Homo sapiens: one gene and its partners. The protein of the gene in region 1 interacts with the protein of each later gene in a pairwise test. Each region holds a gene or a part of one and is shown in the gene's direction. Other genes may lie near its edges. The genes, in order: SDHB, S100A9, SDHAF1 and ABCA1.

Evidence for each region.
Region 2: the proteins of SDHB (region 1) and S100A9 interact in a two-hybrid assay, tested with the Homo sapiens proteins (one study listed by IntAct).
Region 3: the proteins of SDHB (region 1) and SDHAF1 interact in binary tests that used the Homo sapiens proteins (3 or more experiments, as listed by UniProt).
Region 4: the proteins of SDHB (region 1) and ABCA1 interact in a two-hybrid assay, tested with the Homo sapiens proteins (one study listed by BioGRID).

What each region holds. Positions count from the first base shown.
Region 1 is NC_000001.11:17,043,568-17,051,328, reverse strand, and holds part of SDHB (succinate dehydrogenase [ubiquinone] iron-sulfur subunit, mitochondrial isoform 1 precursor), read left to right. Parts: intron 1-6,440; coding exon 6,441-6,568; intron 6,569-7,761. UniProt on the Homo sapiens protein: Iron-sulfur protein (IP) subunit of the succinate dehydrogenase complex (mitochondrial respiratory chain complex II), responsible for transferring electrons from succinate to ubiquinone (coenzyme Q).
Region 2 is NC_000001.11:153,353,517-153,361,128, forward strand, and holds S100A9 (protein S100-A9), read left to right. Parts: upstream 1-4,337; 5' UTR 4,338-4,365; intron 4,366-4,752; 5' UTR 4,753-4,767; coding exon 4,768-4,917; intron 4,918-7,127; coding exon 7,128-7,322; 3' UTR 7,323-7,507; downstream 7,508-7,612. UniProt on the Homo sapiens protein: S100A9 is a calcium- and zinc-binding protein which plays a prominent role in the regulation of inflammatory processes and immune response.
Region 3 is NC_000019.10:35,990,031-35,997,244, forward strand, and holds SDHAF1 (succinate dehydrogenase assembly factor 1, mitochondrial), read left to right. Parts: upstream 1-5,157; 5' UTR 5,158-5,244; coding exon 5,245-5,592; 3' UTR 5,593-6,282; downstream 6,283-7,214.
Region 4 is NC_000009.12:104,917,576-104,925,336, reverse strand, and holds part of ABCA1 (phospholipid-transporting ATPase ABCA1), read left to right. Parts: intron 1-2,794; exon of another isoform or gene 2,795-3,225; intron 3,226-5,500; exon of another isoform or gene 5,501-5,551; intron 5,552-6,599; exon of another isoform or gene 6,600-7,636; intron 7,637-7,761. UniProt on the Homo sapiens protein: Catalyzes the translocation of specific phospholipids from the cytoplasmic to the extracellular/lumenal leaflet of membrane coupled to the hydrolysis of ATP.

The sequences.
Region 1 (7,761 bases):
AAATTATAAACTATGAAATTCATACTATCCAAGATTTCCTAGGAATGTACTTTCTGCCTTGAATACTCATTAGTCTTTAGATTAACGTAAAAATGCTTTCAAGGGGCCCTCTTTCCTTTTGGATTTGTAGTATAAATTGCTGGGCAGGTAACAAGGGGAAAAAAATCATATAGTCTCATTGTATGATTAGAGCAACAACTTCTTTTGTTCCTTGGATCTCATTGTGAAATGGAATTATCTTTTTGCACTGTTGCGTTTTATGTTTGCGTTTTCACCACTGGTTATAATGGCTAAAAGGTTGGATTTTTGAATCAAGTGACCTGTGTTGCTATATGATCCTATCCTCGTCTTTTAACTGGGAACAACAAAACATTTTTCATAGAGATGTTATAAAGATTAGAGATTATTTGGCACCGTGTGTGACAGATTATAAAGGTTCGATGAATGAAATCTGGCAAATTTTTAGATATATGTATTCAACGAATTTTTTGGTGGAACACAGATAACATAATCCTGAGAATTAACTCTTTGTACAGACCTCAAGATGAGCAAAGCTCTATCACTTTCAGAACCATGACCACTCTGGTGATTTTGATTTCAGAATCTTCTTTCATTCTGGTAAACCCCCTTTGCCCCACCAAATATTGTATGAAATACATTTTTTTTTTTTTTTGAGACAGAGTCACGCTCACGTTGTTGCCCAGGATGGAGTGCAGTGGCGGAATCTTGGCTCACCGTACCCTCCGCCTCCCGGATTTCAAGCAATTCTCCTGCCTCGGCCTCCCAAGTAGCTGAGATTACAGGTGCCCGCCATCGTGCCTGTCTAATTTTTTTGTATTTTTAGTAGAGACGGGGTTTCACCGTGTTGGCCAGGCTGATCTCGAACTCCTGACCTCAGGTAATCCACCTGCCTCGGCCTCCCAAAGTACTGGGATTACAGGCATGAGCCACCACGCCTGGCCTATAAAATACATTTTTGACACAAAACAAATTTAAATTAGTTGTACTGAAAAAAAAAAAATGATGACATTTTGGGGCACTCCAAAACTGATGTTGGGATATGTCGACTTAGATATTCAGTGTAGTACATCCTGGCATTGCTCTTATTTCACATCATTCATATGATAAGACTTTTTAAAAATTTAAATTAGCTCTAATACAAACTTAGTCTCTTTTGGAAAGATAATACGTGATCAATTATCCGTGTAGAGTGGATATGAAACAGATATTTAAATGTTATAAAGAAATGTTGAAGGGAAAACCTCATTGCAGGTAACCACAGTCATCCCACAGGCCTTGTGGTTCTGATACCCAGCTTGATAGAGCCTAATGCCTGTTGCCCACTGACAATACTAAATCAGGCTTTAGAACTAGGGGGTTATGCCTGGCACAGTGGCTCACACCTGTATGTAATCCAGCACTTTGGGAGGCTGAGGCAGGTGGATCACGACATCAGGAGTTCAAGACCATCCTGGCTAAAACGGTGAAACCCCATCCCTACTAAAAATACAAAAAAGTTAGCCGGGCGTGTGACACGCGCCTGTAATCCCAGCTACTTGGGAGGCTGAGGCAGGAGAATTGCTTGAACCCAGGAGGCAGAGAGATCTCGCCACTCCACTCCAGCCTGGGTGACAGAGTGAGACTGTCTCACAAAAAAAAAAAAAAAAAAAAAAAAAAAAAAGAACTAGGGGATTATGCTCCAGTCCCAGATTCTGTTTAAAGCCCGGTTAGGGGCCAGGCGCGGTTGCTCACACCTGTAATCCCAACACTTTGGAACGCTGAGGCAGGTGGATCACTTGAGGCCAGGAGTTTGAGCCCAGCCTGGCCAAATGGCAAAACCTTGTCTGTACTAAAAATACAAAAATTAGCTGGACTTTATGGCACATGCCTGTAATCCCAGCTACCCGGGTGGCTGAGACAGGAGAATTGCATGAGCCTGAGGGGTGGAGGTTGCAGCGATCCAAGATCGCGCCACTGCACTCCAGCCTGAGCAACAGAATGAGACTCTCCAAAAAAGAAAAAAAAAAGTCCAAGTTAGGGCCAGACACAATGGCTCACACCTGTAATCCCAACACTTTGGGAGGCTGAGATGGGAGGATTGCTTAAGCCCAGAAATTCCATACCAGCTTAGCCAACATGGCAAGACCCTGTCTCTACAAAAATTAGCTGGACATGATGGTGTGCACCTATAGTCCCAGCTACTTGGGAGGCTGAGTCAGGATGATCGCCTGAGCCCAGGAGTTAAAGGCTGCAGTGAGCCATGATCTCCAGCCTGGGCAATAAAGCTAGACCATGTGTCTATAAAAATAAAAAATAAAGGCCGGGCAAGGTGGCCTGTACCTATAATCCCAGCACTTTGGGAGGCCAAGGCAGGCGGATCACCTGAGGTCAGGAGTTCAAGACCAGCCTGGCCAACATGGTGAAACCCCGTCTCTACTAAAAATATAAAAATTAGCTCGGCGTGGTGGCAGGCACCTGTAGTCCCAGCTACTCAGGAGGCTGAGGCAGAAGAATCACTTGAAGTCGGGAGGTGGAGGTTGCAGTGAGCCGAGATCGCGCCATTGTACTCCAGCCTGGGGGACAAGAGTGAGACCCCATCTCAAAATAAATAAATAAATAAATATTTTAAAAAATAAATGAAAAATAAAAGTGTCCAAATTAGAAGTAAAAACTTGAAGTAGCCCCATTTTTTAAAAGGCATATTGTCCCACTTACCCTACTATCTGCCTCAGGCACAGCAGCCACCCACTCTGGAAAATAGTTTTGTCAGTTGCTTAAAAAAAACTAAACTTGTAGCTACCATACAGCCCAACAATTACACACCTGGGTGTTTATCCTGAGAAATGAAGATGTAACGTTCACACAGAAATTTGTCCACAAATGTTCATCTCAGCTTTATTCATGTCACCAAAAATTAGAACACCCCCAATGTCCCTCAGTAGTTACATGGTTAAGCAAATTGTGGTACATGATACCTTGGAGTGCTACTCAGCTATAACAAGAAAAAAGCTATTGCTGTACACAGCAACTTGGATGAATCTCCGGAGAATTCGGCTGAATAAAAAAAGCCAATTCCAAAAGGCTACATACCAGATGATTATATTGATATAACATTCTTGAAATGACCGAATTTGAGAAGTAGAGAACAGATTAGTGATTGCTAGGGCTTACGGAGTACAGGGGAGGTAGGGTGGGAGGAAGTGGACAGGGCTATAAAAGGGCAATGTTAGTGATCCTGTGCTTATGGGAATGTCCCCTATCTTGACTAGCACTGTCAGTATTCTGGTTGTGCTGGTGTGCTACAGTTTGCAAGATGTTCCTGTTGGGGAGACTGGGTAAAGAGTATGTGGGCCCTGGCATGGTGGCTCATGCCTATATCCCAACTCTTCGGGAGGGCCAGGCAGAGGATCACTTGGGGCCAGGAGTTCAAGACCAGCCTAGGCAACACAGTGAGACCCCTATCTCTACAAAAATAAATGTAAAAAAACTAACTGGGCATGGTGGCGCATGCCTGTAGTCCTAGCTACTGGGGAAGCTGAGATGGGAGGATCGCTTGAGTCCAGAAGGTTGAGGCTGCAGTGAGCTGTGATCATGCCACTGCACAATCAGTGACAGAGCAAAACTCTCTCTCTTTTTTTTTTTTTTTTAGCTTGAGTTTCACTTTGTCACCCAGGGTGGTATACAGTGGCACAGTCTTAGCTCACTGCAACCTTTACCTCCCAAGTTCAAGCCATTCTCCTGCCTCAGCCTCCCTAGTAGCTGGGATTACAGGCACACGCCACCACACCCTGCTAATTCGTTTTTTTGTATTTTTAGTAGGGACGGGGTTTCACCATGTTGGCTGGGCTGGTCTTGAATCCCTGATCTCAGGTGATTTCCCAACCTCAGCCTCCCAAAGTGCTGGGATTACAGGTGAGAAGAGTATGTGGAGTCTCAGTATTATTTTCTTCTTTTTGTTTTGTTTTGTTTCTTTGAAACAGCGTCTCACTCTGTCACCCAGGCTGGAGTGCAGTGGCGCAATCTTGGCTCACTGCAATCTCCGTCTCCCAGGGTCAAGCGATTCTCCTGCCTCTGCCTCCCGAGTAGCTGGGATTACAGACATGTGCCACCACACCGGGCTAATTTTTGTATCTTTAGTAGAGACGGAGTTTCACCATGTTGGCCAGGCTGGTCTTGAACTCCTGACCTCAAGTGATTCGTCTGTCTTGGCCTCCCAAAGTACTGGGATACAGGTGTGAGCCACTGCACCTGGCCTCAGTATTATTTTCTATAAATGCATATGAATCTATAATTATTAAAAAATAAAAAGGTTGGCCAGGCACGGTGGCTCACGCCTGTAATCCTAGCAGTTTGGGAGGCCAAGGCAGGCAGATCACCTGAGGTTGGGAGTTTGAGACTACCCTGACCAACATAGACAAACCACATCTCTACTAAAAATACAAAATTAGCCGGGCCTGGTAGCACATGCCTGTAATCCCAGCTACTCGGGAGACTGAGGCAGGAGAATTGCTTGAACCGGGGAGGCGGAGGTTGTGGTGAGCCAAGATTGCACCATTGCACTCCAGCCTGGGCAACAAGAGCAAAACTCAGTCTCAAAGATAAATAAATAAATAAATAGTTTAATTTTTTAAAAAAGCATTTAACTATGGTTATATGCAGTAACATATGAATCTCAGAAGCATTATGTTGAGTGAAAGAAGCTAGACATGAGACTACGTACCGTATGATGCCATTTATATGAATTCTGTAAAAGGCAGACTCGTGATGATAGCTGATCAGTTGCTAAGGGTAGGAAAAGGGGACTTATGTTTGCCATCAAGGGCACAAAAGACCTTTTTGGATGGAAATACTCTGTTGTAATTGTGGTAGGATTACATTGCTTTGTCAAAACTCATTATACCCTTAAAATTAGTGAATTTTATTATAATGAATTATACCTTATTAAATCTCACAGAAAAAAGACCAAAAAAAAAATGGGACATTAAGCAAGCAAAGTCCACTGGAGTTGATACCTTCAGGAATCTTTCCTCTCACTTCCTCCCAAATACCACAAGGTGGCATTAGATGTTCATGTCAGTTTACAAAATGGGGTTCCCGGTGAAAAACATTTGTAGAAATGGCTTTCCTTTTGTTGATGATTTTAGCCAGCTTGGTGATAAGGTAAAACATAGCTTTCATCTTAACTTTCATTTTCTTCATATATTTTCTTCTTTTCTACTGTTAGCTGATGTTTGTATTTTCAGCTTCAGTTAATACGGGACACTTTACCAAGAAATAATGTTACTGGTAGACGGTCTTGACCACAAGTCGTCAAGGTTTTTAGCATGTTGAACAAAAAATTGGACAAAACACACAAGCAAAGCAACAGAAGACGAAAGCATAGATTTATTGAAATGAAAGTACACTCCATAGAGTAGGAGTGGGATTGAGCAAGTGGTTCAAGAGCCCCAGCTGCACAGTCTTCTGGGATTAAAGTACCCTGTACGGGTTTCCTATTAGTTACACCCTATGCAAATGAAGACTTGGCCCGAGACGAATCAGAGGCTGTAGTGAAGACTCCCTGTCTCTAAACCCTGTTCTCCTGCCTCAGTAATAAACACCACTGCATCTTTTTGTAATTAGTCAATTAACCTTCCGAGTTTTTACTTTTCTATATCAGTTTATTTTAAAAATTAGCAGTCCTGGAGTATAGTCTTTTCTTTCTTTTTTTCTTTTTTATTTTGTATTTTTGAAAAAGAGTCTCACTCTGTTGCCCAGGCTAGAGTGCAGTGGCATGATCTTGGCTCACTGCAGCCTCAACCTCTCGGGCCCAAGCAGTCCTCCCACTTCTGCCTCCTGAGACGCACACTACGACACCCAGCTAATTTTTTTATTTTTTGTAGAGATGGGGTTTTGCCATGTTTCCCAGACTGCTCTCAAACTCATGGGCTCAAGCAATTCTCTCACTTCTGCCTCCCAAAGTGCTGAGACTGCAGGCATGAGCCACCACCCTCAGACCACACCCCACACTCCTTCCCCTTAATTCTGGTTTGTCAAGCCTCCACTTAGATGACATGTGAGGAAGCCTTCTCTGACTCTTCACTCATTGAAGTCTCTGCTGTATTCATCCAGAGCTCCCTGTACTTTCCCAACAGTATCGCTCTTTATATTCATCGTGAATGTTTAATTTAACTCTTGTTCACTACAAAGTAAGTTCTGTGAAGATGAAGGTTTTTGTGTATTAAGTGCTGTGTCACTAGCCCCTAATACCATGTCTGATATATTAGCATATGATAGGTGCTTAATACTTGTTGGATATTGAATGCCTGCCTTTTCTAAGAAGATTATGTGTCAGTAATGTGTGAGTTTATATCCAGCGTTACATCTGTTGTGCCAGCAAAATGGAATTATCTTGTATTTCTAATTTTTTTTTCCTTTTTGTGAACTTTAAAAAATTTCAGGCCTCCCGAGGAGCCCAGACAGCTGCAGCCACAGCTCCCCGTATCAAGAAATTTGCCATCTATCGATGGGACCCAGACAAGGCTGGAGACAAACCTCATATGCAGACTTATGAAGTTGACCTTAATAAGTGAGTATCTCTGTGAAAGCCAGCTATTGAAGGAGAGTTCTTGATTTGATTTAGGGACATGCTTTTCACATCCTTGGAAGGCTTAAAAATCTGAGATCATCCGATGGCTCTGTTTTTAAAACAAGAATGAGCTTGGGCCGGGCACGGTGGCTCACGCCTATAATCCCAGCACTTTGGGAGGCTCAGGCGGGCAGATCATCTGAGGTTGGGAGTTCAAGACCAATGTGGCCAACATGGTGAAACTCCCCTCTCTACTAAAAATACAGAAATTAGCTGGGTATAGTGGCTCATGCCTGTAATCCCAGCCACTCAGGAGGCTGGGGCACAAAAATTGCTTGAACCCAGGAGGCAGAGGTTGCAGTGAGCTGAGATCATGCCATTGCACTCCAGCCTGGGCAACAGAGTGAGACTCTGTCTCCAAAAAAAAAAAAAAAATGAGGTTGTTACCTGATTCAGAAGAATAATACCAAAATAATTCCCAAATGAAAGTATGACAAATTTCTAGAAATACTGGTATAATTAACTTTATGCACAGTATTTAAAGTCATTTAATATATTACCATTTTTTTAATGCTGAATGTATTGATTATATCTTATACATCTGGACCTGTGTTTTCTATAATAATAACAGAACCGCCAGAAACTTGCCTTGAATGGACAAGGTAGGGATGTGGTTAAAATGTTAAAAATTGGACTGGCGTGTTAGTTTTCTATTTCTGTCAGAGCAAATTACCACAAACTTAGTGACTTAAAACAACCTAAATGTATTATCTTATAGTTCTGTAGGTCAAAAGACTGGTATAGTCTCATCAGACTAAAATCAAGGTGTCAGCAGGCTGCATTCCTTTCTGGAGCCTAGAGGAAAATATTTTTTGCTCATTTGCGCTATTGGTGGAATGCAGTTCCTTGTGGTTGTGAGCCCGAGGTCTCTGTCATTCTGCTGACTGTAAGCTGAGGGCTGTTCCAAGCTTCCAGAGGCTGCCGCACTCCTTGGCTCTTGGCCTCTTCTTCCATCGTCAAAAGCAGCAGCAGCAGGTTGAGTTCTTCTTCACATCACATCTCTCAAAACCACTCTTTTTCCAACATCTTTCACTTTTAAGGAACTCCACAGTTAGCCAAAGAAAAGAAAGAATCTAGCAAGTTAGTCTCTAGCCTCCTGCTGCTCCACTCCACGCCCCCATATAACCAGAACT
Region 2 (7,612 bases), about 140 Mb from region 1:
AGCTACCCGTGGATAGCTTCTGTAAGTCATCCTAATGCACTAGAGTCTAGAATGAGCACTGGGGAAATGGGGGATGTTAGGGCGCTTGTGGTTAGGAGACCCGTACCCAGAGATCTCCAAGGAAGAGCACTTGGGACTCCCAGCAAGGAGGAAGACAGGGAGTGGAGGAATAGGCAGCAGGCTGTGCGCAGCCTGAGTGGGGCTGGGCCTCAGGCATCAGAGTCCCTGTGAGGAGAGGGACCTGACTTCACCTGCAGGTGGAGCAAGTAAGCCAGGAGACAGTGTCCAGGGGCCATGAGGCTAGTAGTAGTCATGAAGCCCACCAAGAGTCCATCAAAACTTGGAATCTGTGCTAGAAATGACCTAAGGGTCAGCTGTCCCAATCTCCTCATGTAATGGATAAGAAAATGGAGGCCCGAACATGGAAATCACTTCTAAAGACCACCAGCAAGTCTGAGAAAGCTAAGGACTAAAACCAGCTCAGTCCCTCAGTCCGGGTCCCACTGTGTGCCTGCTGTAACACCCCCATTACAACACAGGAGGGGTAAAGCTCCCTGAAAGACCACAGTGGGAGCTGCAGAGAAGGGAAAGACAGACCCGCAGTGGGTCCCAGGCATCTGGGAAAGAGCACAGTGATTTGATGGTAGCTGCAGGAACCTCTGCCTGCTTGTTTGTTTACTTGCTTGGTTGTTTGTTTGTTTGAAATGGAGTCTCACCCTGCCACCCAGGCCAGAGTGCAATGGCGCGATCTTGGCTCACTGCAACCTCTGCCTCCCAGGTTCAAGCGGTTCTCCTACCTCAGCCTCCTGAGTAGCTGGGATTACAGGTGCGCACCACCACACCCGGCTAATTTTTTGTATCTTTAGTAAAGATGGAGGTTTCACCATGTTGGCCATGCTAGTCTCGAACTCCTGACCTTGTGATCCACCCGCCTCGTGCTCCCAAAGTGCTGGGATTACAGGCGTGAGCCACCGTGCCCGGCCACTTATTTGTTTTTTAACCCAAAAAGCCACACCCTTTTCTCCCAGTGAAAACCTCGAGTCATTGTACAGAGCCAGGAAAATTGGCCCACCCACTTCATGCCCTAGCAGAAGGCTCCGACTTTCCCTGGAAAATCAGTACCCAGAGGGGAAGACCCCCATCCCACCATCCCTCAGTCCAACCTCTGGCCTCGGCTGGCAGTGAGGAGGCAGGTGGGTGTCGGCCACCTACTGATCATGCCAGGAATTGTCTGCTCCGGTCAGAACCAGAATGGCTCAGCCCTGGCCTCACCTGCGCCTGGGCTAGCCTGGAACCTGGGGGCCTGCAGTGGCCTTCTAAGATGGGGGCCCACTGTCAGCATCAGATCCCCCAAGTGCAGATTCCCGTCTGTTTTGAAACCCTGACCAGCTGCTCATTCCCACCCACTGCTGAGCCTTCTCTCCCCCAACTCCCTATTTTACTTTCATTCTGAATCAGCACTAAATGACCACAGTCAGTGGCTCTGCAGAAAGTCACAGAACAGAGGGTGACAGGCCAGTGTTTATGTCACATTCACTCATTTCATCATTGATTCATGCACTCCTGAATTTATTCAATCAACAAGCGTTCATCCAGTGCCTCTGAGCCAGCCCTTGCCTGGTGCTAAGACTTTGGAGGGTAGCAGGCAGCATCCCTGCCTAGAGGAGCCACAGTGGTGTGGAGGAATCAGAAAGTCCACCTGAAAGTTGAGAGCTCCATGACAAAGCAGAGATGCCTGCCGCACACCATCACTCAGGGTTTGAGTCACACACACCCTGCTTCATTGTCATGCTTTTTTTGTTTTTATTTTAAATTAATGGACAAATTGTATTAAACAGGAATTTTCATATAAAGCTTCAGATGTCCTGGGCCCTCAGGAGGTCCAAGAACATCTGGTCTACTTTCCCACGTGGCAGCCCTGGCCTGACACTGGCTGTCCCTTCAAGGTAGGAACGTTCTCATTCCCCACAGTTGCCACCACTGTCCAGTGTCCCCAACCCTGAGGCCCCATATCAGTGGCCACAAGTTGCCCTACTGCTGCCGTTGATGTTCTCATGCCCCACCAGCTTCACCTTGGGTCTGGTTCCCGCAAGGGTGAGTTGGAGATCCTTGGTCCTGAGTGAGAAGTGCTTTGTCAGAGGCAGCAGAGGGCGCCATGGGAGCACACAGGAAGGGCGCCTGGGGCTGTGCAGGGACTGCAGAACAGGCTGCACTGGCACACAGGGTTGGCTGCTGGCTGCTGGCTGCTGGCTGCTGGCTGGGTTTCCTCTATTAGCTTAAACAATGGAAGGTGGACTTGGATAGGAAATCTACCTCATGTATTCCTGAGCTGTGTCTGCACCGTTCATTCATTCGTAGGCGACTCATGTATTCAAGCACTCATTTATTTATTAGATGCTTGCTGTGTGCTTAGCACTGTGCCAAGCCCTGTCCTTAGCTACCAAGAGTTTAAAACGTAATTTGGAAGACAGGATATAAGATTATGTCTCCCCTTTGTATTGCGACTCACTCATCAAGTTCTCCCAGCATCTAGCATTCATATCTGGCACTCAGTAGGTGCTCAACAAATATTTGTTGCATAAATGAATGAAAAGATTATTAGTAATAATACCTTTTATTTACTGAGCTCTTCCCAACTTTCCATGTATTGTCGCAATCCTCAAGGTAAGTCCTGATATTATCCTATTTTATTGATAAGAAAAGTAAGGCACAGAGAAGTTAAGTAAACTGCCTAAGGTCACACAGACAGTCTGAAGTCTTAACCACTACTCCAGGTGCATCTCAGCAGTGTGAGGCAGGCCATGCTTAGGGCCAATGCTTAGCACACACAGAGATTGCCTCAGGCTTTCAGAGGACAAAGCAGTCAGGAGGGGCTGGGGCAATAAAGGAAGGCTTCATGGAGACAGAACAAAATAACCAGTGCAGGTAGAAGAAGAGAACCATCTTTCCTGATAGAGAGAGGGGGCAGCAAGCAAGAGGGAGTCCCAGGGTGGATCATCCATACTGGCTTCCAGGGGTGACGGGAAAGGATGCCAGCAAGGACTTCAGCAAGGATCAATCAGCAAATCCGAGGGTGTCTCTCTTGCCAAGCCCCGGGCTGTGTGCATAGGAGAAGGAGAACATGAATGAGAACCTACCTTTGAGGATCTACAGCCAATTGTTGGACAGAGGCAAAATATGTATATAATTTTACTCCAGGAAAGCAAGTGTTGAGAGCCAGAAGTGGTATGAGAATCATAGTCAGGAAGACAGAAACTGTTTCCAAATGGGAAGCACAGAGCAGTCTCCTTGGAAGAGAGTGCATTAGAACTGAGCCGTGGGGGCGGGCAGGATATCACTGTGGAGTAGGGGAAGGGCACTCCTGGGGTGGCAAGGTGGGAGGTGGGCCCTGTGTTCCCACAGTGGGCAGGGAGGTAGTGAAAGGGAAGCTGGCCGGACAGGCAGGGCCATTCCAAGAGGGCTTTGTGCGCAGGGCTAAGCCAAGCTTTCTCCATAGGCAATGGGGAGCAACTGGAGGTTCGTAGCAGGAGAAGGACACATCTTGCCCACCAGGAGGCTAAGTAAAAACAGTTGTCTCCCAAGTTATAAGTTCCTGGAACCCTTGCTGGGAGCAGGATTTAGAAAAATGATGCTGAGAGATGCTAGAAACATATTCGCCCTGAGGCTCTCTCACTCAGACTGCAAGAGGAAGGTATCATCAGAATTGCCCTTAACCAGGAACCAGAATAGCTGGGTCCCCTTCCTGCCAAGTCAGCAACCAGCTATGTGACCTTGCTCAGGTCCATCTCCGGGTGTCAGTTTCTTCATCTACAATGCAAGAGGGTTGCCCACCTCTGAGAACCCTTCTAACCCCAAATCTCACCCTATGAATCTAAGAACACCAACCCCTCGCCATCCTAAGTATCACAGAGCCAGGCAAGCATGGGTGAGAGCTCAGACCATCCTTGTTGGACTAAAAGGAAGGGGCAGACTGCCCATGGGGGGCAGCCGAGAGGGTCAGGCCCCCATAGGTCCTCAGCCTGCTTCAACCTCAAAGGGGATGGGGGGCTGAGTGGTGCCAGAGGAGCAGCAGGCTCGCTCGGGGAGAGTAGGGCCTTAGGATAGAAGGGAAATGAACTAAACAACCAGCTTCCTCCCAAACCAGTTTCAGGCCAGGGCTGGGAATTTCACAAAAAAGCAGAAGGCGCTCTGTGAACATTTCCTGCCCCGCCCCAGCCCCCTTCCTGGCAGCATTACCACACTGCTCACCTGTGAAGCAATCTTCCGGAGACAGGGCCAAAGGGCCAAGTGCCCCAGTCAGGAGCTGCCTATAAATGCCGAGCCTGCACAGCTCTGGCAAACACTCTGTGTGGCTCCTCGGCTTTGGTAAGTGAGCTGCCAGCTTCCCCAGGCAGAAGCCTGCCTGCCGATTCCTTCTTTCCTTCCCTGACCCAACTTCCTTCCAAATCCTCCTCCTAGAAGCCCTCCTTGGTTGGCCCTGCCTACTTTAAAGCTTCTTTCACATTTTCTTAGGTCATGTTCCCCTGGGGCCTCCTGCCCTCAAATGCTTTGCTTTTTGGCACTCTGTAGATATTCTAAAAAATCATTTTGTACATGTGTGTGACAGGCCATCTCCCAGTTAAGTTGCAGCCTGTGCTTTCTTTTTATTTTGCACTTCCCCCACTATTTCTGTGAGTGCTTAGTAGGAAGTGTCAAAGAAGCTTGACAGCATTTTCTTCTAAGTGTCCCAACTCTTGGTTTTCCATTACACAGACAGAGTGCAAGACGATGACTTGCAAAATGTCGCAGCTGGAACGCAACATAGAGACCATCATCAACACCTTCCACCAATACTCTGTGAAGCTGGGGCACCCAGACACCCTGAACCAGGGGGAATTCAAAGAGCTGGTGCGAAAAGATCTGCAAAATTTTCTCAAGGTAGGGCTGGACTCTGGCAGGTCTGACCCAGCCTCACCGCAGTTTGGGTTGACAAGGGAGGATGGGAGTATGGGCTACAGCAATCAAGGGGAAGATTTGAGCTCCTGGAGCCCAGCCCCAAGACGCAGCGAGTGTCCTGTTATACAGGGCAGGTGCTCACAGTTACACAGGACGACAGGGTCAAGAAATTGCTCAATTGAACACCTGCTATTTGTCGGGCCCTGTTCTGGGCAGAGGGATGTAGTGGTAAATGGGGAGCCCACTATTCCAGTGGAGGGAGACACACAGTAAAGTTGTTGGCCAATAAAGAGCACAGATAAAGCCAAATGCCAATAAGTGCCTGGAAGAAAATGAGATAGAGTGCGCTGTGGGCAATGGGGCTGGGTGGGGTGGAGGTGACCAGTTAGGGTACATGAGAAGGGCCTCTTTGAGGAGGTAACATTTGAGCTGAGCCCCGAATGTTGGGGAGGGAAGCCCCTGAGGATGACACTTGGCACAAAGCTGAGGAGACCCTAAGCCTCAGGCGGGAACTTGGGGTGGAAGACTTGGGGGCTTTTCTAATCCTAAGGGTCTGCGGTGGAAAATGAATGCATAAAGAGCACATGGAGAGCACCTGCACAGCACTCAGGGAACTGGGAGGTTTTTCCCCCGCTCCAAAAATGATTAGGCAGTTCTAAGAAAAAGGCTGAGCACTTCCAACAGCCTTTTTGTTTTCTTTTCAAATTTGGGGAAAGTCGGGAAACAGAGGCCTGCATTAAGAAGGGTGGAACACATGGGTCTCAGTCTCAGTTCCAGTCCCGGAGCCAGACATCCTGGGGTAGGTCCCCAGCCCTCCCAGTGCCCCTCCCTCCGCCTTGGTAAGGTGGAGAATTGCAGCCTTCAGAGTTAGGGGCCCTGACAGCTCTCCATAGGTGGAGGCCTCAGGCAGGCAGGATGCTGGGTGGGGTAGGCAAGAAAGGGCCCAGCAGAGAGGCCGCATGGCAAAACTATCCTCCATGTGACCCCCTATGCCCGCTTCACCCCCCACCTGACATCCCCCACCAGAAGCAAAGCGATGCTGTGGGAAAGGAAGCAGAGCCTCATGGATGGGCTGCACAGGAGAGTGCTCGCATTGGCTGGGTACCCCACAGGTTCTGGGAGGGGACTTAGCGAGGTGACTCAGCCAGAGGGTGGCAGAGCTGGAACCAACCAGTGCTCTCTTGGACCCCGCCTGGGTCTGGGTCTTCCACCTCCCCTGATGTCTCTCCTTTTTTTTTTTTTTTTTTTTTTTTTGAGACAGAGTTTCGCTCTTATTGCCCAGGCTGGAGTGCAACGGCACAATCTCGGCTCACCACAACCTCCACCTCCTGGGTTCAAGCGATTCTCCTGCTTCAGCCTCCAGAATAGCTGGGATTACAGGCATGCACCACCATGCCTGGCTAATTTTGTTATTTTTTGTAGAGACAAGGTTTCTCCATGTTGGTCAGGCTGGTCTCGAACTCTTGACCTTAGGTGATCTGCCTGCCTCGGCCTCCCAAAGTGCTGGGATTACAAGCATGAGCCACCCTGTCCGACCATCTCCCCTTTTATACTTTATCACACCCTTGAGGTCAGCGGAGCACATACTCTGCTCTCTGACCCTCCATCTCCCCTGCCCACACCTAGTTTTTCTAGGTGTTTCCCCGTTGTATTGGTTGAAATAAGTTTCACTAATTGGTAACCTCCAGAGGGAAGGGAAGGGAGGGCAGGGGAAGGAGTGAAGTGCAGAGGGGTAGCAGAGTGGAACTGGCCTCTAAGTCAGATCTGAATTTGCATGCCCTCAATAGTCAAGCTGTGAAAACTAATGACCCTCTCTAGGACTGGTTTCAAGTCTTCCTCCAGGAAGATACCATTCCTAGCTGTTAAAGTTGTTATAAGGACCAAATGAGGTGACATTTCCAGGCTTACTCATGCCATGACCAGGGCAAGACCCTGGAACTCAGCTTCCTCTTCTATAAATAGAGAATCAGCACCCAAGTCACAGGGTCATGGAGGGAATAAACTGGAGAGCGTTTGGTATGTGCTCAGTGTCTGCTCCATTGTGCGCACTCAGCCTATGGTCATTTTTAATTTTTAAATCCAGCCCCAGGGTGAGGCTTCCCTTGTACATTTGCCAGCTGGTCATTTACTGTGCTCCCAGTCCCCACCTCTGGCCACACCCAGCTCTCACAGCCTTCTCTCCCCACCCGCAGAAGGAGAATAAGAATGAAAAGGTCATAGAACACATCATGGAGGACCTGGACACAAATGCAGACAAGCAGCTGAGCTTCGAGGAGTTCATCATGCTGATGGCGAGGCTAACCTGGGCCTCCCACGAGAAGATGCACGAGGGTGACGAGGGCCCTGGCCACCACCATAAGCCAGGCCTCGGGGAGGGCACCCCCTAAGACCACAGTGGCCAAGATCACAGTGGCCACGGCCACGGCCACAGTCATGGTGGCCACGGCCACAGCCACTAATCAGGAGGCCAGGCCACCCTGCCTCTACCCAACCAGGGCCCCGGGGCCTGTTATGTCAAACTGTCTTGGCTGTGGGGCTAGGGGCTGGGGCCAAATAAAGTCTCTTCCTCCAAGTCAGTGCTCTGTGTGCTTCTTCCACCTCTTCTCCAACCCTGCCTTCCCAGGGCTCTGGGCATTAGACAGCCCTGTCCTTATCTGTGACTCAGCCCCCTCATTCA
Region 3 (7,214 bases), on another chromosome or scaffold:
TATGCCTGCAGGATGCGTGTCATCCCAGTGGCCAGCACCGTGGTCTCTGTGACACTCTCACAGGCCATACTGCAGCAGCCAGGAGCCTGGGAACCCTGTGATGCCCTGGAGGGGCCCCAAGCATTGCCATAAGTGCTCTGGCTTGGTCTGGGGTGCAGGCAGGGCAGACTATGGGTTGGCTGGAAGAGCCCCTTCCCCTGGTGGGAGTCCAGGAAGAATTCCTAGCATAGGTGGAATTGGTGGAGGAGAATGTGTGGGAAGAGGATCCAAGGGAAAGGGAACTGCAGCTACAAAGGTGTGGAGGTGGGGAAATACCAATGGGAAGCCAGGCTGACTAGGGGCAGAGGCGATGAGATTGGAAAGAGGAATTTGAGGCTGGGCGCGATGGTTCCTGCCTGTAATCCCAGCACTTTGGGAGGCTGAGGTGGGTGGATCACCTGAGGTCAGGAGTTCAAAACCAGCCTGGCCAACATAGTAAAACAGTGTCTCTACTAAAAATACAAAAATTAGCCGGGTGTGGTGGCACACACCTGTAGTCCCAGCTACTTGAGAGGCTGAGGGTGGAGAATTGCTTGAACCTGGAGGTGGAGGTTGCAGTGAATGGAGATCACACCACTGCACTCGAGCCTGGGAGACAGAGGGAGACTCCATCTCAAAAAAAAAAAGAAGAAGAAGAAAGGAAGAAGGAAGAAGAAGGAAGAAGGGAAAAGAAGGAAGAAGAAGGAAGAAGGAAAAAGAAGGAAGAAGAAGAAGACGGAGGAGGAGAAGGACTAGGAGAAGGAGGAGGAAGGAGGAAGGAGGAAGAAGGAGGAAGAAGGAGGAAGAAGGAGGAAGAAGGAGGAAGAAGGAGGAAGAAGAAGGAAGAAGAAGAAAAGAAATTTGAGCCCTAGGCATTTATCTTTGCCAACTGCCTGCAGCACAGACCTGCCCACCCCAAGGCCATTACAGCATCTGTGCACAGACCTATGATTTGGGGTGTGTCCTGCCTGCCAACCCCGCTCACTGTTCCTCCCGATGCTATGAGAGCTATGAACGTGGCCTCACCATTGATGGCACAGACTGTGTGTCCCAGGACCACTGTGGCTGCTTCCACAATGAATGCTACCTTCTGGTGAGAGGGATCTCCAGGCCTGGAAGGTGAGGACAAGTCTCCCAAACCTCATCATAAGATGTTCCCTGAATCACCAGTATATCAGTCAGCATTTTCAGTTGTAAATGACAGAAAATGATGCCAGCTGTCTTAAATACAGACGAGAATTTGTCTGCTTTTACTTATCTGTAAAGATGAGGCCTTCAGGTCTGGCTGGTTCAAGGACTCAAATGATGTTGCTAAGAACTTAGTTTCTTTCCATCTTTCATCCTCGCCTTTTCCTTTTTCTGCGTTAGCTTCTATAGTAATTAGGCTCCAGGTCCATATGGTAGAACAAAAGCTCAAAATTACAGTGGCTTAAGCTTTTTGTTTGTTTTTAGAGAGAGGGTCTCACTCTGTCACCCAGGCTGGAATGCAGTGGCGTGATCATAGCTCACTACAGCCTTGACCTCCTGGACTCAAGCAATCCCGACACCTCAGCCTCCCAAGTAGCTAGGACTACAGTTATGTGCCACCATGCCTGGCCAATTTTTTTTTTTTTTTTTTTTTTTTTTTTTTTTGTAGAGACAAGGTCTTGTTGTGTTGTCCCGGCTGGTCCTGAACTCCTGGGTGCAAGCAATCCTCCCAACCTCAGCCTCCCAATGTGCTAGGATTACAGGCGTGAGCAATACGCTCAGCCTACAGTGGCTTAAACTTGATAGAAGCTTAATTATCTCTCACAGGCAGTCCAAGTATAACCAGTTTGCTTCCTCCAACACAGGCTCCATCTGTCACGTGGCTCTGCCTCCCCTGTGGTATTGCCCTCATCTCTTCCTCACCGCAGCTACATTCCTGCAAGTTGGAAGGAGAAAAGAGGGCACAAAGAGGCCAGGCCTCCTCCCTTTAAGGACAAAACCCAGAAATTGCACACATCACATCCATTCACTTCCCAGTGGCCAAACTTTATGGAAGGGCCCCATCTGGCTGCAAAGGGGGCTGGAAGATGTATCTTTAGCTAAGTGGCCATGTGTGCAGCTAAAGATTCTAATTTGGCCAAGTGCGGTGGCTCATGCCTGTAATTCCAGCACTCTGGGAAGCCGAGGTGGGAGGATCACTTGAGCCTAGGAATTTGAGAACAACCTGGGCAACATGGTGAAACCTTGTTTTTATAAGAAATACAAAAATTAGCCAGGCATGGTGGTGAGCGCCTATAGTTCTAGGCCACTGAGGTGGGAAGATCACTTGATCCTGGGAATTTGAGGCTTCAGTGAGTCACAAGCATGCCCCTGCACTCCAGCCTGGGCAACAGAGCAAGACCCTATCTCAAAAAAAAAAAAAAAAAAGGAAAAGACAAAGAAAAAAGGCCAGGCATGGTGGCTCACACCTGTAATCCCAGTACTTTGGGAGGCCGAAGCAGGCGGATCACTTGAGGTCAGGAGTTCTAGACTAGCCTGGCCAATATGGCGAAAACTCGTCTCTACTAAAAATACAAAAATTAGCCGGATGTGGTGGCGCATCCCTGTAGTCCCAGCTACTCAGAAGGCCGAGGCAGGAGAATCGCTTGAACCCGGGAGGCAGAGGTTGCAGTGAATGGAGATCACGCCACTGCACTCCAGCCTGGGTGACAGAGCGAGATTCCATATCAAAAAAAAAAATGCTAATTCTAGGAAAGAAATGGAGAATGGGTATCTGAGACTGCCACAGCCTCATTTTCAAACTACCCCTCTGCCTGCGGGAAGTGATCTCCCACTGCTCCAGGTTGATGATGTACAGTCTAGCAGTCCCAGTGGGGAGACAGCACTTCTTTCTTCACAGTTTCAACAGAAGTCCCGGGTCTGATTCTCATTGTCCCAGTGGAGGTCATTTGCCCATCCCTAAACAATTACAGGGGTCAGGGGATGGGATATTCTGATTTGTCTCTAAGTAGCCAGGCCTGGGCATGTAACAGAGCTGTAGCCAGAGCCAGAGGGCAGGGATATTACCCAGGAAATCCCCTAGAATAAGAGTGGGCCAGTTCCCCAAAGACAAACTGAGAGACTGTAACCAGAAAACCATTGACAGGCCCTGGGCAGGAGGCAATAGTATTCCCTTTGAGGTTTTGCAGCTCCTTGAGTCCACTGGAAAGTAAAGAAAGTCCCCCTAGGCTGATTGACATAGTTGTCTTGGAGATTAAGGGTCATTTGACAGGAAAAAGATAGATGTTTAAATTCCAGAGTACAAGCCAGCATGGTGGCTCATCCCTATTATCCCAGCTACTTGGGAGGATGAGGCCGGAGTTCAAGACCAATCTGGGCCACATAGCAAGACCCTGTCTCTAAAAACAAAACAAAAAATAAATATTTAAAATTCCAGAGTGAAGCCTGGGCAACACAGCGAGACTCTGTCTCTACAAAAAACAATAAAAGAAGAATTAGCCGGGTGTGGTGGGATGTTCACGTAATCCTAACCACTGGACATGTTGAGGCGAGAGGATTGCTTGATCCCAGGAGATCAAGGCTGTAGTTTCACCAATATGGTGAAACCCCGCCTCTACTAAAAATACAAAAATTAGCCCAGTGTGCTGGCACATACCTGTAATTCCAGCTACTGGGGAGGCTGAGGTAGGGAGAATCACTTGAACCTAGAGGCAGAAGTTTCACCATGTGGATCAGGCTGGTGTCGATCTCCCGACCTCAGGTGGTCCGCCCGCCTCGGCCTCCAAAAGTGCTGGAATTACAGGTGTGAGCCACCGTTCTAGGACATGTATTTTTGATAGATACATACACCTGCCAGGCAGGATTCACAGTGGTTTGTGATTCTCCCCTGACTCCAAGACTCCAAGCCTAATCCCCGCCCCTGACCAGCTTCTCCTCTCTGAAGGGGAATGGACCCCCCAGCTGGTTGCCGGCCCAAGTGTGCAGAGCCGCGGTTGCGCGCTGGGTGGAGGGGTCCCCCAAGCTCCGGTGCTGGTGGGGCCCGAGGATGCTGTGTCCTTGCGGGCCTCCCTAGCGCTACGAGGACACCTCCAGGCGGCCCGCGGGGACAACAACGGCATTGCGGCCTACCACCTAAAGCTCCTGGGAGGACAACGGGGTTGCAGTCTAGTCGACTGTTCAGGGTGTCCCGGACTCCGGGCTTTAACAGTCGGTAAGGACCCAAACACCGCTGTCCACTGCCCCGACTCCCACCCGCAGAGGGCGCGACCAACCCAGCTCCTAGAGCCACACGCTGCCTCTGGGGGCTTGGCGCCCACACTCTCTCTGCTTGTCTTCCCCTGGCCCGAGAAGCCTGTCCAACCGGCCGAGAGCCATTTCCCTACGGGGTCTCGTCCCTCTGCACGTGCCCAGGGCTGGGACCCCAGACACAGACCTGCCCCGGACGAGGGAACGCACGGAGCTTCCCAAGATGGTTTGAATCAGTAACTGACGGCAAAAGCACGCTTGTGCCCGGCGTCTCTCCCAGTGCCCCGTGCCCTTGGGACCCAAAGTCCGAACCGGTAGCCGGGCGCGGTGGCTCACGCCTGGAATCCCAACACTTTGGGAGGCTGAGAATCGTTTGAGCCCAGGAGTTCGAGCCATTCTGGGCAACATAGGGAGACCCATCTCTGCAAATAATAATAATAATAAATAAATAAATAAATAAATAAATAAATAAATAAATAGCGGGCGCGGTTGCGCGCGTCTGTGGTTCCAGCTACTAGGGGAGTTGAGGTGGGAGGATCGCTTGGGCCCAGGAGTTCGAGGCTGCAGTGAGCCAAGATCGCGCCACTGCACTCCAGCCTGGGCGACAGCGAGACCCCGTCACACACAAAAAAACCCCTAGCTTCCTCTTCTCCCAGAATGCAGGAGTTAGGTGAGGACCCTCTGTTCCCTCCAACCCAAGACCTAGGAGTCCGAACACATAACGCCCTCCAGGCGGTGCCAGGATCCCCAGAACTGCTGTCCCCTCAAGAACACACGTCCCCTACGTGGGAGGCCGCGACCAGCGACTCCGCCCACTTCTCCCAGCCGGCTGTTACGTAACTGCAACGACAGCCAGTCAGACGCGGCAGCGCCGGATGGCGGGAGGCGGGAGTTGGAGGCCAAGGGAAGCGCTGGGCGGAAGTGGCTGTGGCTTTGCCCTTTGGCCTTTGCTGGCTGTGTGGCGGCTCCGCGGTTCGCAGGTCGTTCGCTGAGCGTCTCTGCTTAGCCGCGGTCATGAGCCGGCACAGCCGGCTGCAGAGGCAGGTTCTGAGCCTGTACCGCGATCTGCTGCGCGCCGGGCGTGGGAAGCCGGGCGCCGAGGCGCGAGTGCGGGCAGAGTTCCGGCAGCATGCGGGCCTGCCGCGGTCCGACGTGCTGCGCATCGAGTACCTGTACCGCCGCGGGCGGCGCCAGCTGCAGCTGCTACGCTCGGGCCACGCCACCGCCATGGGCGCCTTCGTACGCCCGCGGGCCCCGACCGGGGAGCCTGGCGGCGTGGGTTGCCAGCCTGACGACGGCGACAGTCCAAGGAACCCCCACGACAGCACGGGGGCACCGGAGACCCGCCCCGACGGACGGTGACAGGCGAAGAGCCGAACTCGCTCGATGGCGTGGTGGAGCCAGGAGGCTCGCCTGACTGCATGGGGGGACTGGGGAACCCGCCTAAGGTGAGAGGTCTTAAGAGACTAGCTTGACGAATTGGGGATGTCAGAGACTCCTCCTTGGCGACGCAGGGGGCCTAGAGAGCCCCGTGATGGACGGCAAGGGAGGCCCGCCTTTTCCGATGCTTGGAGACAGGTCGGTGCTCCTCCCCCATGAGGGCTTGGGGCGGCCTGGGACGCTGGCGGGCTGGACAGTGTCAAGCCAAGAGCTACTTGCCCGAAGGTACGGGGAGCCAGGACGACCCCCGGTGGACAGGGAGAGCCTGAGACGCCCTTCTCTTGACCCCTGAGAACATACCCACTTCTGGCTCCTCAAGGAGTCTCCCCTCTCCTGTATTTAACTCTGAGAAGTGCAGACTTTTTGCTGAGAACGTTTTGGGAAGGTGCCCTGATGAGCGGTGAGAAGCCCGGAATCCCCTTCTGGAAAACTTTCCCCCATTAATTGTGACAAGCCAGGACCATGAGGAAGGGGTAGGGGTCTATCACCCTGGTTGATCAACTGAAGACCCCCAAAGGCCCCTACTTGATGGTTTTGAGGGGCAACATTGACTCATTTGCCCCTTCCCTCTCGGAATGTTGGACAAAGGGAATAAAATTGGGGATATGTCTACTTCCCTGTTGGTGGTCTTAAAGCTTTTATATATTTCAGGATTTTTGAAACACCCCCAGCCCCCCTGCCACCACACACACACGCACACAGACACCTGGAAGGGACCATCTGGGAGGTGATAGGTGTGGGGATCTGACTCCTTCCGGAGCCCTGTAGACTGGCACATTGATTGAAGCGGCATAGTTTTCTCCCCTGGGCAGATCTGTGGAGGGGGCTCATCCTGGCTTAACCCCCAAAGATACCCCAGTTGGCTCCCTAATGGAGGGCAAGTGATTTAACATCTTTGTGTGGAAGAGGAAATGGTGGAGCTGAGAACTGGCTCGGAGCCCCTGAGGCAGTAGTGAGGGTCTCAGACCTGGAAATTTCTCAAACCTGGCTGAAGGGTCCAGCCTCAGCTACAGTGAACGACAAGGCCCTGGGGCAGGAGAGGGGAGATGAACCCCATAGATCACAGATATACTCCCTCCGGTGTCCCCATATGGGCCTGCCCTAGACATTCTGTGGAGGGATGCATTTTGCATCGCTGAGCTATATTTGCACCCATATCAGTTAAATAAGTGGAAATGAGTTCTTGTGGATGTAGCTGTGGGTAGGAGGACCACAGGTAAGGAGCATAGACCTCAGACCAAAGGGAGGATGGACGGAAGAGAAACAGTCACTGCCCTAATCCCGGTGGGGGAGCCACATTCCCAAATGGTTATAAAGTGGAATTGCAGTTTGAAGAATTAATTGCCGGGATAGGCTTCTAGGCAAGAAGACCAAGGCTGGGCGCAGTGGCTCACTCCTGTAATCCCAGCACTTTTGGAGGCCAAGATGGGCGGATCACGAGGTCAGGAGTTCCAGACCAGCCTGGCCAATATGGTGAAACCCCGTCTCTACTAAAAATACAAAAATTAGCCAGGCGTGGTGGTGGGCACCTGTAATCCCAGCTA
Region 4 (7,761 bases), on another chromosome or scaffold:
TGGCACGATATGGCTCACTGCAACCTCCACCTCCTGGGTTCAAGAGATTCTCCTGCCTCAGCCTCCTGAGTAGCTGGGACTATAGGCGCACGCCACCATGCCTGGCTAGTTTTTGCATTTTCAGTAGAGACAGAGTTTCACCATGTTGGCCAGGATGGTCTCGATTTCCTGACCTCTTGATCCACCCGCCTCGGCCTCCCAAAGTGCTGGGATTACAGGCGTGAGGCACCGCGCCCGACCCCTGGACACATTTTGACTTAGAACATATTTTCGGTTTGTGTGAGACAGTGCATTAGTGCAGGATTGGAAAAGAGTGATCAGGAATTGATTGTTTTCAAGGATTGGTTCCTTCTGCTCAAGGAAGTCCCATTGTAAACATAAAAAAATGAATGAAACTGAAGAAGTTCAGTGACTTAGCTTTTTATTATCTTCTGTAGTACTTACCTTTTTGGAGAGGAGTTGGTTGGGATATTTTTCCATTTAAATTTTTTTTTTAAAGGGATCTTCTCTCCCGTAAGCCGGGATACTTAAGCTATATATGTAGTGGCTACAAATTAAGGTCTTCACTGTTTTCATTTTTAGCTGCTAGAATAAGTGAACATTACCTTAGATAGACTCTTCTAATTATGAAGATATCTAGATGTCTAGAAAATATCAAAATGCATGTGGTTTTTGCATTTCTAAAATACTTTTAAAACCAAATACTTTTTCTTTTTTTTTTTTTTCTGAGATGGAGTCTTGCTCTTTTGCCTAGGCTGGAGCGCAGTAGAATGATCTTGGCTCACTGCAACTTCCGCCTCTCAGGTTCAGGTGATTCTCCTGCCTCAACCTCCTGAGTAGCTGGGATTACAGGTGCGTGCCACCACACCCGGCTAGTTTTTGTGTTTTTAGTAGGGACAGGGTTTCACCATGTTGGCCAGGCTGGTCTCAAGCTCCTGACCTCAAGTGATCTGCCAGCCTCAGCCTCCCAAAGTGCTGGGATTACAGGCATGAGCCACCACACCTGGCCTCAAATACATTTTTTTAAGTATCCAGATATTAAATAAATAATACCATTATAGTAGTTGTTATGGTCATTTACTCTAGCATCAAATGTTAAAAGATCATTCTGAACACTTGTTTTGTTTATGCTGAGAGAAGGCCTACTCCAAAAAATGCAACCATCTTCGTATCTGCATGTGGATACAACCATGAATGGCCAAAGTTATTGCAGTGTTGAATAGACACTTATATAGCACTGTGTGGCAAGTACTGTTTGAAATGTTTTTCACGTGTTTATTCATTGTATTTATTTTGAGATAGGGTCTTGCTCTGTTGCACAGGGTGGAGTGCAGCTGCACAGACAAGGCTCACTGCAACCTCAGCCTCCTGCGCTCACGTGATCCTCATACATCAGCCTCTTAAGGAGCTGGGGCCACAGGCACGCACCACTGCTCCTGGCTAAATTTTTACAATTTTTTGTAAAGACAAGGTCTCACTATCTTGCTCAGACTGGTCTTGAACTCCTGGGCTCAAGTGATCCTCCCACATCAGCCTCCCAAAGTGCTGGGATTACAGGCATAAGCCACTGTGCAGGTCATCAAATGCTAATTGAATTTTCACAACAAAACCATTTATTGTCCCTAGTTTACAAGATTAAGTAAATGAGAAGCTAATTTTTCTCTGGCTATATACCTTGCAAGAGGCAGAGCTAAGACTTGAACCCAGCCAGAGTTCTTTAACTCCAGCACTAACATTTCAGCTGCTGCAACCAGGGAGCTTTTCAAGGATGATCACCACATTCTCTACATTCATCTGCTATAATCCTTATCAGAATCTACAGCCTGTATCATATTTTCCTTGTTGCTGTGAGTGGGTCAGCCAAATTCTCTTTAACTTGAAACCTTGGTTGCGTAGGGATTGCAACATCCTGGAAAGAATAGAATAAAATTTACTCAACTCAATTTTTTACTTGGTTCATAATGAAAACTATACTATTGCTTCAGTCAGATGTTTGCGAATAGCTGTGTGATCTCAAAATGTTTTCCTATGTGATCTATAGAAAATGGAATGATAGAGTATTAGGCTGTAAGGGCCTAAGAAACAAAGGAAAAAGAGAAGTGAACTGTTAGTTTAGTTGTAAAACCTAACTTTGGTGAATTGTAAAAATTTGTTATAATACAATATGATTCTTGCTTGTCCTGTCCTTGATGAAGTTGTGGACCTTTTGAAATAAGCTATTTCTCTGTTACTGCTGTTACTGTTTAGAAATCAAATTTAGTTTTTTCTTAAGATATACGTATTTTTGGAAGATAAACACAGTTTCAAAGTCTGCCTTGTTGGCTGGGTGCACTGGCTCATTGTTGTATTCCCAGCACTTTGGGAGGCCAAAGCAGGAGGATCACTTGAGGTCAGGAGTTCAAGACCAGCCTGGCAAATATGGTGAAACCCCGTCTCTACTAACAATACAAAAATTAGCTGGGCGTGGTGGTGGGTGCTTGTAATCCCAGCTACTGGGATTGGGAGGCTGAAGTAGAAGAATTGCTTGAACCTGGGAGGCGGAGGTTGCACTGAGTCGAGATCGTGCCACTTTACTCCAACCTGGGCGACAGAGTGAGACTCCGTCTTGAAAAAAAATGTCTGCCTTGTAAAAGTGAAATAGGATGAGAAAGTGCCTTTCTTATTAATTGGTGTAATGAATTAGAAATAAACTCTTTGAAGACACCTCTTGGTAAAAATAGTTACATTTACTGTTGATTTATGGTATGTTGGATATGTTTTTAAGTTTTCCGTGTAATAACTCAGTTCATTCTCATGAGTGAAATAGGTGCTTTTATTGTCTTTATAGATGGGAAACTGAGGTATAGGCAGGCTAGGTACATTATTATGGAGTTCGTAAGTAGTGGAGCTGAAGTCGCATCCCAGACAGTTTGGCTTCCGTGAGTTTACCAATCTCATGGTAAAGACTTTGTCAGACTATCAAAGTTTTGACAAATGAAATATTAGCAAAAGGCCAAAAGGGATTCTCTATTTTCATTTGAGTATCTTCACCTGAAAATAGTTGCCTGAATAAGTAGCCTGCATAGAAAGGTACATTTTAGAAATACTTGAGGCCAGAGAATGAAAAGCTTACATAAAATTGATTTCCGGTGGGGCCTTCAGTTACTCTCCATTCTACGAAGACCACAAATAGCATTCAGGCAAAGAGCATTTATTCCAACAATGGAGGAGCACTGGATTTGGTTCCTAAAACAAAATAAAGTTTGAAATCCTGTCTTTCCCATGTTGAAAACAAAGTTGGTACAAAACCCTTTAGCTTTTGCAAACCTCCTTTAAGACCCGATTTAAATGCTTCCCTCCTCATGAAGCTCTTCTGGATCCACTCCTTCCCATCACTAAGTTGAAAGTAAGATCCCCTTCTCTTTACTTCCATTAGACTTGGATTACAGCACTCTTTGTATCATGTATTTAATTCTGTTTTTTAATTACAGTTAACATTTATTTGTCTTCCTCTTGAGTGTATGCTTCTCTAGAGGAAGGTCTTTGATTCATTCTCCCCTGGCCTTAATTCATCCCACTTAATATGGAAAAAATTTAATAAATGCTGACTTGAATAAGTCCAACAAGGAGAATGGGAAGCTCATGTTTGCTTCCTGTCTTCTAAAAGACTACTTAAGATAACAGGGTAATCACAGAAAAGCATTAGAAATAGAGTTATATGAGAAACAACTGTAGTTAAGGCTAGGTTTATGTTAGACTGAGAAATTTTAGTGCATACTTAAGTTATTTAGGCCAGGTTACTTTTTGTAGAACAAACATTTCAGTTTCGCTCAGTTTCATTTCCGTTTCTGAGGCAGCTGTGATTTAAGAAAATGCTCTAGTCTGTGGCATTCCATATTCAAGTACTTTGAGTTGTATATTAATTTATTTTTGTTAATAAGAGTGACATGACTCACTAAGTAATTTAGAGATTTAAACACTTTTTTAAAAAACAGTAACTTCATATGCATTGGATCTATTCTTCTATAAAGTCTTTTCTTGGGGGGTGTTTGTTTAAAATTCCCCGGTGTTTTCTCTGCCAAATCCAACTTCCAAGAAGCATTTGGAAGTCAAAACATTTTATCTGGTTAGTCTTAAAGTCCAGATATTTTGTGATAGCTGGTATTTAGTTTATGATATTTCCCAGGAAGAACTTTTTAGTAGTTGAACCATTTATGAAAGACTTCCTTGAAGCTACCTTAGAGAGTTGATTTAGTTCTTCTAAATAAGTAAATAGAATATTAGTATTAGGACATCTTGGAGTATAGATGCAAATATTGGTGAAAAAGAACATGGATATCAGAGTCAAATTAATGTAGATTGGAATTCTGGTTATTACTAATGGATATCTGACATTAGGCAAGTTGCTGATCACTCTTTGCCTCAGTTTCATCATCTGTAAAATAGGTATTTGTGTTTGTGTATAATGTGAACCGTATAATATAATGCTTGGCCTATAGTGAAATTTATTCATACGAGTGTTTTCAGTGATTTTAAAAGCTTGCTTTAGGCCGGGCGCGATGGCTTCTGCCTATAATTCCAGCACTTTGGGAGGCCAAGGTGGGCGGATCATGAGGTCAGGAGTTCGAGACCAGCCTGACCAGCATGGTGAAACCCCGTCTCTACTAAAAATACAAAAATTAGCTGGGCGTGGTGGTGCAAGCCTGTAATCCCAGCTACTCAGGAGGCTTAGGCAGAAGAATCGCTTGAACCCAGGAGGCAGAGATTGCAGTGAGCCGAGATGGTGCCACTGCACAGAGCGAGACTCCATCTCAAAAAAACAAAACAAAACAAAACAAAAATCTTGCTTTATAGTTTACTTCCACATCAAATTGTCTTTATCCCATGTTACTTGCATTGATATCCCAGACATGAAAAGAAAAAAAGATGATAACAATGACAGTTATTAAATTAGGTTCCACTCTTATTCTAGATCACCAATTCATATTACTATTCAGACTTGGAACATTAAATTTTAGTTAAACTTTTTTTCAAATATGCATATAATTGTCAGTGGTTACTATATTTTGGGGAAGAGATTGTTGACTTCTTTGAAGAAAGATACGGATTTTCTCTTCAGAAAAAATACACATGGGCTCATATAATCCAAATTTTATGTGTAATTACAGGGTGTTCATGAATGCCCACAAATCCATTAAGCCATGTGACCTTGGACAAGTCATTTTACTTTTCTGTTTTTTAGGTTGTTGGTCTGTAAAATGATACTACTTGACTTTTAAAGAGCCCTTCAAGCTCTTATGTCCTCTAACCCCAGGTCTGTATTCAGAAGAAGGGGTGGTCCTTTAATTAGAGCCATCTAGAGATCTGAGGAACATGCTGGGCATTAGTGTAACATACCATGTGGATTTTGAGAGGTAAAGAAAAAATAACCAGGGAATGCCTCAGAGCATTCCTGATCAGATCGATGACAGAAGAAAGGAATGAGAGGGAGGAGAGGAAGCTGTTGAAATTTCCTATTTACCTGCTTTGAGTGAATGAAGATTTGAATCATAGAACCAGAAGGGGTTCTCATCTGAAATGCAAAGGAAGGAGGAGTTGGTTTAATTCAATAAGTTTCAGTTGAGTAAACATGATTTAGTGAGATACTGTTCTTGCTTCTGACTCACCATTTGGAAAATCTCTCTAAAATAAAATTGGACTCTCCATCTCGGACATCATTTTGGGTGTAGGTTTTGCTTTTTTTTTTGAGATGGAGTCTCGTTATGTTGCCCAGGCTGGAGTGCAGTGGCGCAATCTCGGCTCACTGCAACTTCCGCCTCCCAGATTCAAGCAGTTCTCCTGCCTCAACCTCCTGAGTAGCTGGGACTACAGGCGTATGCCACCATGTCCGGCTAATTTTTGTATTTTTTTAATAGAGACGGGGTTTTACTATGGTGGCTAGGCTGGTCTTTAACTCCTGACCTTGTGATCTGCCCACCTTGGCTTCCCAGAGTGCTGGGATTACAGATGTGAGCCACAGTGCCCGGCCTAAGTTTTACTTCTTATAATGGACTCCTGTTAAGCCAATAGGTGATGAAAGGAAACCATAACCAACTCTTCAGGCTCATTCATCCTTCAAGAATAGCATGCTAGTACCCATCCTAGGAGGAGAATTGGACTATACCTCATGAGGATAGTTTGAAGTATCTCAGAAGACCCTCACTGGGGGTAGGTCGGTAAGACACAAAGCTTTCTAAAGCACTGTACCAAATTTGTTGTTTGAGAGATCATAACAAATTAGAAGTGGAAAGAAGAAGGAGTAAAAGGAAGAAGAGGTTTCTGGCCAGGAGCAGGGAGGGGGAAGGAGCTGCTAGGAAGATGTTTGGTTGTCATATCCCTGTTCACCCTTGCTTTGCAAAATTCTTGTAGGATGCCAGGTTGGGAGTAATTGTTTTTCACAAGAGTCAAACCACGCTTGTTTTCTTGAAGAAGCAAGTCTTTGGAGGGTGGTGGCTTGAAATCTGTTGGATCTGGTATTTAGGTGATACACTTTGACATAAAGGCAACACTGATGCAAGCAGCAGCTTTCCTTGGAAAGGCAGGGAGAAAGTGAAGGCCCAGACTGATGAGCTTACACTGACCTGCAGACCCTTCTCCATTCCCAGGCATGTTTGGTGGCAGAGTTTACCTTAGTTGGGGTTAGGCTGTTGTCTGGTACTGTGAGAGAGAAGGAAGAAGAAGATATGATATTAACAACAACAATACATATTTATATTTGAAAATTAAATGCACTAATACACCTATAGTGCTATTAAACAAATTTATTTGTTCAGCAAATGTTTGTTAAACACCATGTACTGTGGAAAGTACTAGGTGCTGGACAGAGGTCAAAAGACTTTTAAGAATCTGCCACCATTAATGATCTCTTTCTGCTTGGCATTCAAGGCTCTTTGAAATAAGACTGTGACCCACTTTGATAGTTTTGTCCTGGATTATAAGACACATGCTCGAAGGAACTATAGCTGGTTTTCTCACCAGACTGATTAACATATAGTATGGTTTGGTACCTGTTAAATGAGTCTCTCTCTACAGGTTTTCATCTTCTACTTTAAGAACCCCTTCCTGGCATTGTTTGGCTCCTCATTGTTCTGGAATCTCATGTCCATCTCATGTATTTGCCTTGGTTCACACTTGATCTTCTGCTCATATTCCTCACCTACTGAAATTTTACCCATCAACCAGACCGTGGGTGATGGAACACAGCATGGGCTAGTTCTTCTTATATATGATCTCATTTAATTTTCACTGGAACTCTGAGATAGGTAGCATTTCAGCCCACTCAAGTTGACTCAAATTTTTGTAATCATCAATATATTTTAAAATAACTTTATATTTGACCTGTAATTGGAAAACCAATATGAGTTATCATAAATGAAAGGTAATTTTAAAAATAATTAGGATGAAGACAAATTATTTTTCTCACAGTCTATGTATAAGATAAACTATTGGTTCCCAAAGGCCCCAGCTGACAATGAGACTTCTCTTACTTTGTTGAAAAGGGAATTAGCAAGCATTAAAGAGGTGTCAAAAAGAAGACTAAACAAAAGCTTACTCCTTTTTTTTTTTGAGACGAGTCTTGCTCTGTTGCCCAGGCTGGAGTGCAGTGGCACCACCTCGGCTCACTGCAACCTCTTCCTCCTGGGTTCAAGCGATTCTCCTGCCTCAGCCTCCCTAGTAGCTGGGATTACAGGTGCATGCCACCACACCCGGCTAATTTTTGTATTTTTAGCAGAGATGGGGTTC